Linked DNA regions of Homo sapiens. The protein of the gene in region 2 purifies or fractionates together with the protein of the main gene of each other region. This does not show direct contact. Each region holds a gene or a part of one and is shown on either strand. Other genes may lie near its edges.

Evidence for each region. Proteins that work in one complex are often made in the same cells at the same time.
Region 1: the proteins of OR10S1 (region 2) and SLC44A5 purify together in Homo sapiens (affinity purification with mass spectrometry; one large-scale study listed by BioGRID and IntAct). This does not show direct contact.

The regions. Positions count from the first base shown.
Region 1 is NC_000001.11:75,216,115-75,219,614, reverse strand, and holds part of SLC44A5 (choline transporter-like protein 5), read left to right. Parts: intron 1-270; coding exon 271-358; intron 359-862; coding exon 863-1,125; intron 1,126-1,654; coding exon 1,655-1,749; intron 1,750-3,500.
Region 2 is NC_000011.10:123,974,966-123,979,771, forward strand, and holds OR10S1 (olfactory receptor 10S1), read right to left. Parts: upstream 2,817-4,806; 5' UTR 2,700-2,816; coding exon 1,731-2,699; 3' UTR 1,696-1,730; downstream 1-1,695. UniProt on the Homo sapiens protein: Odorant receptor.

The DNA of each region.
Region 1 (3,500 bases), on a different chromosome or scaffold from region 2:
GTAGATTTGTTTTATTTTGTCTCCACATGATACTGCTCCTTAGCAATAAGCCAAGAAAGCTCCTATACATTTTACTGTTTTTAAGGGGCCACTCAGTGCAGCTGGCCCACATTACATTAATCTAGGCCTGAAAAATAGATGAATATTATTAAAATATTAGGCATTTTTTAAGTTAATTTCTCATGCACTTTTGAGTTGTCAGTATTGTTTTCTTGTCCATTTATTTTCAATCTACCAGCAAATGGTTTATCCTTAATGGAGTTTATTCAGTTTCTTGGCGACATCGGGGGTACCTGTATACAAAGTCATAGCTCCAGGGGGGCATTGTATACATGAAAATCAAACCTGTGACCCAGAGGTAAGTACAAGAAACTCTTTCATTTACTTACTTCAATATAGACTTCTGCTGCAATTCATTTTGTAGTTGTGGTAGGAATTGTCCCGAAGCAGAGATCCTATACACTGATGGGGACAACTATGTGCTGAAGTGGGGAGTGTGCATCAGGTAAGCAGGAGAGTATGGAAAACAGTGGGTGGAATGGAGAGAAAGCACTGTATTTCCTGAGCTTGCCTGCCCTACCATATACCCAAGACCATAGAAAGTAGGTATGGTCAACAACAACACTGATAAATGTGAAATTATAGTGGGTGCAGATTATGAGCATTTGATGAAAAATGGGATACTTTCCAGCACTCATTAGATAATTATATAAAGTGATATAACAGAAAATAGAGGAGTAAGAGCAGGAGCTAACAGAGAAACAACAGGATATGCAATTAAGGGGAAGAGGAAAACACAGGGAGTTGTTATCTTGGAGTGATATTTAATATTATGTCCTTGTGTTCCTTTTTCTCAATGCAGATTTTTAATACAACTGAAATTGCCAAAGCTTGCCCTGGGGCTCTGTGTAACTTTGCTTTCTATGGTGGAAAGAGCTTGTACCATCAGTACATCCCTACCTTCCATGTATACAACTTATTTGTCTTTCTCTGGCTTATAAACTTCGTCATTGCATTAGGTCAGTGCGCCCTTGCTGGTGCATTCGCTACTTATTACTGGGCCATGAAAAAACCTGATGACATCCCACGATATCCACTTTTTACTGCATTTGGACGAGCCATACGGTAAGTTTCAAGTTGAAGCCTACACCTATCTTGTCAGTTACATTTAGTGTGCTTGTAATTCAGTCTTGGCTCATTAATTCAAGTGGCAAGGTACAAATGAAATCAAAGGTATGAATCAAAATTCATGGATGCCCATTGGTTTTGTCTGGTTTCATAGCCAGTTTTACAATCCCTACCCAAGCCAATTTCCTTCTAAATGCTATAGGTTACTAGAGAGAGAAAAAGATAGAGGAGGATACCAAATGAAAGATCAAGGATTAACTTGGCTCTGTGTCTCCATTGAGCAGTAAAAACATCCTATTTTATGATGATAGACTATTGGTGTCATTTATGCTGATAAAGGGTAAGACAGATGTATATGGTTTAAAATCCTCTATAGAGACTTTTATCAATCTAAATAAGAGAGTGCAAAAGTCTCTTTGCTGTTAATCCTTCTGCAGATACCTTTTACTTGTGAAAATTATTCAATTAGCATCCCCTTAAATAATAGTATTAAGTTTTAACTTATTCTCATTTTATTTTTGTGCAGATATCACACAGGATCCCTAGCATTTGGATCTTTAATTATTGCATTAATTCAAATGTTTAAAATTGTACTAGAATACTTGGACCACCGTCTTAAACGTAAGATTTCAGATGTCCTGACTTTTGTGAAGATAATAAATTGGGTTGGGGGTTGGGGGAGACCTGATGATTATAACTTGGACTAGGGTAGTAAGGATGAAAGGGCATATTTGGGACCCGTTCTGTTCTGAAGGAAAACCAGAGAGAGCTTGCTGAAGGAGTTGATGTCAGGGGAGGGGAGGGACAGTGGTGAATAAAAGAGAGAAAAGGTGTGTGATCCTATTTGTTAAGCTGTGGAAGCCAGAAGAAACAAATTTCAAAAAGGAGATTAAGAATTCTGTTTTGAGATGTTATTGTTGAGAAGCATGATGGAGATGTCAGGTTGGCAGTTCCAAGTATATAGTTCAGGTCAGGTTAGGCTTAAAATATAAATGTGGGTGTCACGGGCATAAATCTTCATACCTGATATATATTGTTTACAAACACATAAACTTTGCTTGGAATGTACCTTAAAATATTTTATTACTAATATTGGAAAAAGACTTGAAAAGGAACAAAAAAGCTGGAAGACTCATACTTCCTGATTTCAAAACTTATCATAAATCTACAGCAATCAAAAGAGTGTGGTACTAGCATAAGGACAGACATATAGAGGTAAAATAAAACAGAAATCCCAGAAACTAACTCTCACATATAAGACCATTCAATGGGAAAAGATCAGTCTTTTCAACTAATGGTGCTGGGAAAATGGGATATCCACATGCAAAAGAATGAAGTTCAACCTTATCTTACATTAACATACAAAAATTAACTAAAAATGGATCAAAGACCTAAACAAAAGCACAAAAACTATAAAACTCTTAGAAGAAAACATAAGATGAAAGCTTCATGACATTGGATTTGGTGATTATTTCTTAGATAGTACACCCAAAGCATAGGCAACAAAAGAAAAATAAATTGAACTTCATCAAATTTAAAAACATTTATTCAACAAAGAACACTACCAAGAGAGTGAAAAGACAGCCCACATGATGGAAGAAAATATTTCCAAATCATATGCCAGATAAGGAATTCATATCCAGAACATAAAAGAACTTCTACAACTCAACAGCAAAATAATAAGCAACCCAGTTCAAAAATGGACAAAGAACTTGAATAGATATTTCTCCAAAAATGATATACAAATGGCCAATGAGGACATGAAAAGATGCTTAATATCACTAGTCATTAGGGAAATGCAAGTCAAAACCACAATGAGACTCCATACACATTAGAATGGCTATTATATATATATAAAAACAAAGAAAAAAGCAGAAAATAACAAGTGTTGGTAAGAATGTGGAGAAATTGGAACCCTGTGTATTGCTGGAGGGAATGTCAAATGATGTAGTCACTGTAGAAAACAGTATGGCAGCTTCTAAAAAATTTTTAAATATAATTTTATATGACCCAGAAATCCTATATCTAGATATACATGAAAAGAATTGAAAGAAGGAACTCAAACAGATACTTGCACATCACTGTTCATAACAGCATTATTCAGAATAGCCAGAAGGTATAAACAACCCAAATTCCAATTAACAAATGAATAAACAAAATGTGTTATGTACACACAATCAAATATTATTCAACCTTAAAAAGGAATGAAATGATGACCCTTGACGACATCATGCTAAGTGAAATAAGCAAGATACAAAAGGGTAAATATTGTATGATTCCTCCTATTTGAAGCACCTAGGAGAAGCAAATTTATACAGACAAAAAATATAATGGAGTTTACTAAGAGCTGGGGGAATAGGGGAATGAGCAGT
Region 2 (4,806 bases):
TGAATGCTGCATCTTCACTGCATTTCTTTCTCTCTCTCTCTCTTTTTTCTTTCCATGAATGCTAGGTTCAGTTTCTGCATTTACAGTGGAATAGGCACTATTCAAAGGCCAAGGAATCCTTATCTCAAAAAGTGCCTCTGTTTATTAAAAGACTAAAAGGATTTTGAGACCTCTAATATATTGGGTAAAAAATGGGGTGGGATTTGATTATCTCTAAAGTACTATTGTCTAATTGAAATGTGTAGTCTTTGAAGACATACAGATTTGAGTTGAAATCCTGGCTTTAACTATTATGGTTGGCATGGCCTGGTAAAAGTTATTTTATCTTACTTTATCTGTATATCATTAATAACAATAAAAATATTGCTGCAAAATATATTTCTTAGGAGGATTAATGCAGACCAAGCAACTAGTACAGTGCCTTGTACATACATATGTCAAAAATGATTATAATTATGATTCCCATTCTAATAGTCTTATAATTTTTTCTCTTCAAAACACTTCTGATCTAATTCTATAAAGTGTCTCTTCATCTAGGTTTAGCAATACTTTTATTATCTTATGTCTCTGATGTTATAATAGTTTATTAACTGGCCATTCTACCATTTCTCCTTTTTTTGTCTCTCTTTTCTAATTTATCTCATGGTTTAGCATTTAAAGAAGTGGCTTCTCAGGATAAAGGTATTTCTATAGATGACAAGGAGGAGGAAAAGTAAACAGGTAGGATGCCTAGGGCATAATCTGAATTCTTTAGGTTGGCATTCAAGGACATTTTCATCTTATAGAATAGGTTAGGTGAATACAACACAACTCCTTCCTCTTGTATGGTAAGCTGGTTTAACTAAAACCTTGAGTTATCTTTTATAATTTTGAAGTCTAGAAATGCCCTTTCTTTTGTAGTTGCCCTATAAACTCAATGAAGATATTAAAACCTTGCTAATCTTTCAGAAACAATTTGAACCTTAGCTTGTATCATAAGCTCTCTTTGATTTCTTCAACCAGCTTGGTAAGAAACATGAGCGCCTATTTTACATGACACTTAATATAACTATTTTATTTAGACCTCATAATATCCTACAAAGCAATTATTTTAAATCTTACTCTTAAAAGTGGAGACTAAAACTGCAATTATGACATCTGTACAAAATTCTACAACTAGACCTGGTTGGATCAGTATTAGAATACTGGTAGGTTCAATTGACACCAAAACCCATGTTATTTCTATCTCTCAATGTGGCCTAAAGTATATACTACCATGAGTGGGAGAATAAAGAAAATGTGACTTTCTAAGTCACCTTGGACAATCACTTTTCTCCTTGTATTTTATCATTTTAAAAAATGTGGTTTCTAAGCTGGGAAATATGTATACAAAGGTTTTTTCATTGCCTTTTATATTTTTGTTTACAGTATTCTGTATGTATTTAATAAAGTTATTTCATAAAAAGTAAAACAATCATTTACTAATACAAATGAGGATACGAATAGCATTTCACATACCTCTGAACCATAGAACATAGATTTTGGAGAGACTCTAGACATCATCTAATCCAGCCTCCTCATTTTCTAGATGAAGTGTTTGCAAGGGAGAGAGTGAGGTAGACCATTTGGCCAAAGCTGGGGGAAAGTGTGTGACTGAGTTGCAACTCAGTTATTCTGATTTCCACCTGAATGATTTGAGATGTGAATAGTTGCTTTCCTGGCAGGCAAATTGTGAGTTTTGATAGCACAGACTATGGGGGTGGGCTGCCTGCTGTAGACTCTCGGAAGCTGCTGCACAAAAGCCTTTGCAGAGCATGCTTCACCTCCTTGTTCCGCAAAGTGTAAATGAATGGGTTGAGCATTGGAGTTACGATTGTGTAGAAGACAGCAGGGGCCCCAGCTCCTGCCTCACTGGAGCGAGGCTGCAGGTAGATACAGACAGGTGGCACGTAGTACAGGAGCACCCCAGTGAGCTGGGCAGTGCAGGGGGAGAAGGCCCGCTGCCGGCCCTGGGCTGTGCGGATGCGCAACACAGCTGCCACGATGAAGATGTAGGAAATAACGATGAGGATGAGGCAGCCTGCAGCCACGATGCCAATGCTGGCAAGCATGACTAGCTCATTAATGGTGGTGTCTGTACAGGCGAGCTTTAGGACAGGGGGTATGTCGCAGAAGAAGTAGGCAATGTGGCAAGGCCCACAGTAGAGCAGGCGGAAGGTGAGGGAGGTGTGGATTGCAGCGTGCGTGGCACCTATGGCCCAGGTGATTCCAGCCATTTCTGCACACATCCTTCTGTTCATGGCCACTGGGTAGTGCAGGGGTTGACAGATAGCCAGATAGCGGTCATAGGCCATGACTGTGTACAGGAAGCACTCAGTGCTGGCCAGAAAGTGGAAGCAATAAAGCTGTACGGCACAGCCCTCAAAGGAGATCACCTTCCCATCCAGAGTCAGCAGGCCTGCCATGACCTTGGGCACTGTCACTGTAGACAAACAGGCATCCAGGAAGGAGAGGTGCCCCAGGAAGTGGTACATGGGTAAGCTGAGGTGAGAGTCAGAGCCCACAGTTAGGAGGATGAGGAGATTCCCAGCCACAGTGATGCTGTAGATGAGGAGGAAGAGGAGGAAGAAGAGGCTAGAATGTTTAGCGGTGTACCTCAAACCCTCCAGGAAGAAGTGGCTCACCACAGTCTGGTTGGGGTTCTCCGTTGTCATGGTCATCTTCTCACACACAGAGCGGCTAGTCATCCCCTTTGCAACAAAACTGACATTAATGGAATAAATAGCTGTATCCCTTTCCTGAGATGTCATTATCCATCAAGCCACACCACCTTGGTCTTACCCAGTAAGCAAGAGAAAGATGTACAAGTTCATCTTACAGTTTTGTTCTGCTCTAGTCTAGTGCTTCCTTGCTGTTTATTTCTTCATAATGAATCTTTCAATACAAAATCTGCAGTTTTGGTGAGGTATATAAAGGACTGTAAGAATTATTTGCAGAAATGCACTCCCTAAATAATGACAATAAAAATATGGATTATAAATCCTACTCTCAATGAGTATTTTTTGCAAATATTCCAGAATTGTGATGCCTCTGCCCTCCTACTCTATGTACCCTGCCATGCTGTAGATGTAGAAAGGCAGGTTCTTATTGCTGTGTCATCAGGGAGATGCATCCTATTTTCAGGTGAGACTTGCCTGGAGTTTTGGTGCTATTACATCAGCCAGAAACACAGCAGCCCCACCCATTACTCAACCAGAGGAGTTCTTTGGAATTTCAGTTACCCACAATCCTCAAGTGTGTAACAATTGAGGCTTGGAGAATAGACTGAATAATTATCAGGACAATTTTTTCTATACACTTTGTGTTCTTCCTGTAAAGCTCTGTTTCAAAATTTGGGGAATTGTTTGCCTTTTCCTTTCTTGTTGAGCCTTTCCACTGGACTGTAATTGAGATTTAAAGAGTTCTCTTTGATTCTTCCATCTTTCACCTCGTTAGCCTAACAGATGTTGCATTAGGTGAAAAATTTCCTTAAACTGCTTTTTTTCCGTGTTGTCTCTTCAATTCCTGTGGATTTTACCTAAACCCACCTCTTCATATTTTACACCTAGATTTTCACAATGGTATTTTATGTCCCATCTCTTCCTTACTCCCTGATATACCAAATGATTCAGTATTCAACTTTTTTGTGCCAGTTTTCTTAAAAAAATTCGAATATATCTTTTCTTACTGTTCCTTAGTGCCTGAGATATAAAGTGTATCTCTGTCCTACATTCAGAATTATCTGTAAACTATTTCCATTATCATGAAAAAAATCTTTATCTTCTGCAATCCCCTAAGAAACTCCTGTTATCCAGGGATGCTATTTGCCTCATCTCCTCAATTTGCCATAATCTCTCTCTGATCTTGTCACAGGATCCTTAGGATGTCACTTTTCCAGACAGAAACCTCTGTGGCTGGTGGTTCCTCTGCTTGAGTTTGCTCATGGCTGCTGGGTTCTTTTCACCCACTTGGCCTGGCAGGCTGCACTTGGCTCGTGCTACCAGCCTGGATTCCATGCTTGCCAAGGGTGGGAGAGGCGAGAGGTGTGTGAGTGAGCAAGCACAGGGGTCTGGCCACTGCACACAGCCAGGCACACTTGCTGCTGTGGTGGGATGGGCAGCTCCAGGTGCCAGCAGAGGCACCAGCTTCATGTGAGGCTATAGCTGGACCAGGCATACTGCAAGTGGTTTCCATTATGGGCACCAGCATCTGGACGAGGGGAATATGGGGGCACCCAAAAGCTCAGAGATGCCAGGAACTGCAGAGCCCAAAGAGGGTATTACAGCCTGTCACAGCCCTGGCTCAGGGAGTCCTGAGGTCTGGGCTCCAAGAAGCTCTTCTTTCCTTCTCGTCACCCACAATGCAGCCAATGAGGGGGTGAGTTTGGGGGTTTGTGTTTCAGTCTGTTTGTGTTACAGCCCTTTCAGTCCCACCACCCCACTCTGACCTGCAGCTCCTGGGCTGGCCTGGCCCACCTCTGCTTCCTGTCCCATTGGGTGGCCACCCAGCACTGGCAGAGGGTGGGAGGGCTATAGTGTTACAGCAGCTCTGGCTTGGGGAGTCCCGAGGTCTGGGCCACCAGGAGGGTCACCACTTTTTACTCCCATAGTCCGGGAGCATGTCACCACCCACAGCTTGGCAAATGAGCCAGGAACATGTTACAGCACCTTTAGCTCCCCCTGTTCGGTGGGTCCCAAGTTCTCATCCTGCGTCCAGGAAGAATGAGGATACTAGAGGACAACTAGAGGGTGAGCAAGGTGCAGAGGAGCTTTATTAAGCAAGAAAACA